Linked DNA regions of Homo sapiens: region 1 is linked to region 2. The links come from fine-mapping of genetic effects on gene expression. Tissue or cell type: thyroid. Region 2 holds a variant in brackets; the other region holds the start of a gene. All regions are shown on one strand. Distances are from middle to middle.

Evidence for each region. PIP is the estimated chance that this variant, and not a neighbour inherited with it, causes the effect.
Region 1: LINC03056 starts here. The variant in region 2 is fine-mapped to the expression of LINC03056 in thyroid (GTEx, PIP above 0.99).

What each region holds. Positions count from the first base shown.
Region 1 is chr12:63,372,309-63,374,950 of GRCh38, forward strand. It overlaps LINC03056 (long intergenic non-protein coding RNA 3056), which reads right to left and starts at 1,445. Exons shown (of 2, transcript XR_007063345.1): 1 at 1,402-1,445.
Region 2 is chr12:63,303,879-63,306,731 of GRCh38, forward strand. All of the region lies in intron 1 of LINC03056 (long intergenic non-protein coding RNA 3056), which reads right to left. Among named protein-coding and RNA genes, the nearest start is that of LINC03056, 68 kb to the right of the region's middle. The variant G/A (reference allele first, on the strand shown) is at 1,434.

The sequences.
Region 1 (2,642 bases), 68 kb after region 2:
GTTATTTAGTGTATCAAAATAAAAGATAGGCAATGCTATCACAATGAATGATAGGGAGGGTAATGCAATTATACTATTGTAAGTTATCAAATTTGTGAAGTGAGAAGTGGAAATGTGAGAAGTATGAAATAGGAACTGAGAAGATTCAGATGATTAAGAGTAAGTAGGAAGTAGATCAGGTATGAAATGTGAAGTGGTAAAATATTGACTCTGAATAGACTTTGTTAAGGTAAAAATGAACACCGCTAGCCTTGTAAATGGAATACTATAATCAACAAATAAATTCAATTGGCCCAAAAAAATTCAGGAGAGGAGCAGGAGAGAAGCAAAATACTTAAGGGACATGAGAAAAAAACAAATGGGTGCTAGGATTAAATCCTACTATATCCATAAATACATTAAATATAAATAAACCAACCAAACTCTCCCATTTAAAGCAGAGACTGTCACTACACACTGTCTCAAAGAGGTGCACTTTAAATTCAAAGAAGCAAATAGATTAAAAGTAAGAGGATAGAAAAAGATATACCAAACAAATTGTAAGCATAAGAAATCTGGTGTTATAATATTAATTTCAAACAAAGTAGATTTCAGAGATAGAGACAATTCATGATGACAATAAAGGCATTTCTTCAGAAAGACGTAACAACCTTAAATGTACATTCACTAATAACAGAGCTTTAAAAATGACGAAGCAAAAACCTAACACAACTTAAAAAGGAAAAAGACAAGTTCACAAATTAGTTTGACTTTTTTAGCAGTCTTTCCTCTTCCCCACATAACTGATGAAAGAAATAGACCAAAAATAATTCAAGATACAGACAGTCTGAACAACAGTAAAAATCAGTTTGATCTTACTGACATTTATAAAACACTACATCAAAAAAAACTGCAAAATAACCATTTTTTTTGAAGCATCCTTTGGATGTTCACTAAGATAAGCCTATACTGGACCATAAAATAAGTCTCAGTACATTTTTAGGGATTGAAATCTTAAGTGTATGCTCTCACTCCATCTATATAATTTATGGATTTAAATTATAAATACAAAACAGTAAGATATCTAGAAAATCCTTCAAATATTTAGAAATTTAAAAACACATTTCTAATTAATGTATTATGATTTTAAAATAATAATTTAATAGAATAGAATAGAGACTCCAGAAATAGACCCACATACATATGGCAAATTGATTGTGTAAAGTCAACAGCTTAATTCAATGGAAAAAGGATAATCTTTAAACAAGTAGTGCTGAAACAACCGGATATCAATATGGGACAAAAGAAGCTATGCTATTTTCCTCACACCAAATATAAAAATTAATTAGAATTATAGGCTTAAATATAAAAACTGAGACTATTAAACTTCTAGAAGAATATATAAAAGAAAGTCTCCATTACCTTGTACAGCAAGGAATTTTTAGCCAGGACACTAAAAGTATTACCTGTGAAAAAAAAATTGATAGATTCAACTTTAATTAAAAATTCTACTATTCAAAAGATATTGATAAAAATCAAATAACATCAATAAAAAATTAAAACTCAAGATGCATACTGAAGAAAATGATATATATTTTTATCCAGAATATATAAAGAACATTTACAAGTTAATAACAAAATAAAACAATGAAAATAAACAAATGTTTTGGACAGATTCTTCTTCAAAACAAACAAACAAACAAACAAACAAACAAGGATTAGTGAATGACCAACAATTACATGAGCAGAGGCACAACATCATTGGTCATCAGAGAAATACAAGTTAAAACCACACGAGATACTACATACATACTAGAATGCCCAAAATTTAAAAAGTTCAATTGCATGTATTGGTAAGGATACAGAGCATCTGGAACTCCCAAAATTACTGGTGAGAGTGCAAAATGGAGCAAGCTTTTTGGAGATATATTTGGTAGTATCTCATAAATTTAAATATATGCTTACTGTATGATCCAGCAATTCAACTCCTAGGCATTTACAGAAGTAAAATGAAAATATATTTCTACAAAAAGACTCAAGTAAAATACTCATAGCAACTGTAACAGTCAAAAACTGGAAACAACCCGAATGTTAATCAAAGGAGAATGAATGACTTTGGCTTATTTACATATAGTATATATATACAGTGAAATAACACATAACAAAAAAGAATAAACTTCTGAACACATAGCAACATGAGCCAATCTTAAGAATATTATGTTGGCCAAAAGAAGGTAAACATAAAGGAATACTAATTGATTCTTATTTAGATGAAGCTCAAAAATATGCAAAACTAATATAGGATGATAAAAATCTAAGTACTGATTGCCTCTGAAGAAATGTTGGCTGATTTAAGGGGAGCCCAGGGGAATTTTCTAGATTTTTTAAAAAGTCTTCAACTTTTATTTTAAGTTCAGTAGTACCTCTGCAGGATGTGCAGGTTTGTTACACAGGTAAACATGTGTCATGGTGGTTTGCCGCACAGATCGTCCCATCACTAGGTATTAAGCCCAGCATCCATTAGCTATTCTTCCTGATGCTCTCCCTCCTTCCTTCACTGCCCCCTCCACACACAGGTCCCAGTGTGTGTTGTTCCCCCAATGTGTCCATGTGTTCTCATCATTCAGCTCCCACTTATAAGTGAGAGCATGTGGTGTTTGGTT
Region 2 (2,853 bases):
ATCCTTTTAAGTGTATTTTATTGAACCTGCACTTCATTCAAATGCCCATGCTTATGTTAAAGTACATCAATAAACCATTATATTCGAATCTCTCTGATATATTCTGAATTTTTGAACCCTTTTTTTTTCCTTTGGTTTGTTTTACTAAATACATATAGCATATGTTCACAATGATAGTAATTTGACTTCAACAAAAATATTGCAGTTTAATTACGGAGGACTTTTTGTTATATTTGAATAAAATGTATTAAAAGCCAAGCAATATGCTCAAGGGATCAAAATTGTTACAATAGGTAGAGTTTGTATTTTCAAGGAGCAAAGTAACGTGGATTATTATAATAATTATTGTTATTTGAATAACTAAAAGCTATCTATTTTTTATTTGGCCTTTTAGTTTGGTAATTGCTGTAAATGCTTATTTCTAACTCTCCCTTTGGTACATCATCCTTAGAGAATTAACAACACCTAGTTTTTATAATTTCACTAAGCTTGAGTGTCAAAATTTTCTAGTCACATAGTTTGAGAAAATTATGAAATAAGCAGTAAACTGATTAGAATAATTATAAATTTTATTTTGGAGTAGATGCATATTTTTAGGGAAAGGGGACGCTTAAGAATGTATGTAGGCTGGCCAGACACAGTGGCTCAGGCCTGTAATCCTAGGACTTTGGGAGGCTGGGGTAGGAGGATTGCTCAAAGCCAGGAGTTCAAGACCAGCCTGGGCAACATAGCAAGACCCTGTTCCAAAAAAAAATTTTGTTTTTAATTATATGGGCATAGTGGCACATACTTGTAGTCCTAACTACTCAGGAGGTTGAAGCAAGAGGATAGTTTGAGCCCAGGAGTTTGAGGCTTCAGTGAGCTATGATTGCACGGCTGCAGTCCAGCCTGAGCAACAGGGCAAGACCCTGCCTCAAACAGCAACAACAACAAAGTACGTAGGCTAAGGGGAAAAGGTTAAAAATCTTTCTCTTGTCTGAAAAGCCAAAATAAAGACAATTATTAATAGGTTATGGGAAGTAAGATGAGATTCAAAAATCCCCCATACATATGAACAAAGCCACAAACACCAATGCGTTTCTGTGTTCTCCAGTTGAGCAGGACTCCAACATGACTCAGGTAGCCTATCATAGCTCTAATTTCCCAGATGTCTCATGCACTCCAAGAGTTCCGAACACTGTGTGAAAGGGAAGTGTCAGCCACTGCTTGGGGGCATAAAACAGCCAATCTCAGTGATGAAGCAGTCTTCAGGCATGGATTTACCCCCTACGTAATTGAGAATTTGTTTGAGAAGTTATCTATTAGAAAATGTGCTATAATTACTGGGGGTTGTGTGTGTTAAGGAAATTGTCGGGGACCTTGGAATTGCTAGCTGATGACACAACTGGAGAAAGCTATCTTCTCTGTTCTGAATTTTTGTTCATTAAGCAGCC[G/A]AAACTACTGATTCATTGTGTATGATTAGGGCATGCAAATAGAGTCATGAATAAAGAGTGCTAAAGATGACCCAGACATTTTTCTTATTAGTGCAGATCTCAAAACATATTCTTTTATGTCTCTACACCATAAGCAATTAGGGTGTATATGCAACATATACCACAAACAATTGCCACTGCCACATAGGATAGACTAGAGGATTTTTACTCTGTGTTCTATTTCACGGCTCAAAATGATTAGAATATTGCTATGCCCTTGTTATGGAAAAAAATTAAATCATACTTCTGCATAAGTTTTATTAAGTAAATTTGCTAAAACCTGATTAATAAGATAGTTTGCCCTCCAAAGTTGAAGACTTAAAAATAGTTTCATTGCTCTACTTTGTGCTTTTGAGGCAAGAGCTAGAACATTAAAGTTGTTCAAAAATAATTTAACAAAAATTTCAGTTTGTTACAAAAATATACCCTTGAAATAGCTTTTAAAAGTCAAGAAGTCTTCCTATATAAATATTTTATTAATGCCACTGTCACACAAATTTTTTCTTTTCTTTTTTTCTTTTTTTTTTGAGACAGAGTCTCACTGTGTTGCCTGGGCTGGAGTGCAGTGATCTCGGCTCACCGCAACCTCTGCCTCCCAGGTTCACGCCATTCTCCTGTCTCAGCCTCCCAAGTAGCTGGGACTACAGGCGCCCGCCACCACGCCCAGCTAATTTTTTGTATTTTTAGTAGAGACGCGGTTTCACTGTGTTAGCCAGGAGGGTCTTGATCTCCTGACCTTGCGACCTCATGATCTGCCCGCCTCGGCCTCCCAAAATGCTGGGATTACAGGCATGAGCCACTGCGCCCGGCCAAATAAAAAATTTTATTATCCAATGTTCAACTTCTAGCTGCAATGACAGACATGAAGGAAGAAAAACTACTTCATCCAAATTTAGTACATATCAAACACAAATTCCCACAAAAAAGGAAAAATTGGCAGTGTATTTGAATTATTTCAAAATAGCATTTCAAAGTTTTATTAAACTTTATGAGCACAAAACATGCTGACCCAGAAAACAATATACCAGGATCCCATGGGAAGGATTTATATGTTTATTATTACATTTGTTAATCACAGTCTGGGGAAATATAATTGCCATTTTCTTAAAAAATAGAGATTAGAGTTGTAAAACAAAGTAACTTATAAATCTTTGGATAAATAAAGGTTTAATGTGACAGAAAACCAAGTGCAGTCCTTTGTTGTTGTTTCCAGCTCTACCCCTCATTCATGTCAAATTGAGCAGTCACTTATGCTGTTTTTCAATTTTCCCATCTGCAAAATGAGGAGAAAGGCTTTGCTGTCTCATGGGAATACTGTATTATGTTGCTTCCTCTCCAGTTCTTAAAACTAAGACTGAAACCAAGGCTGCTACTTCCTTGG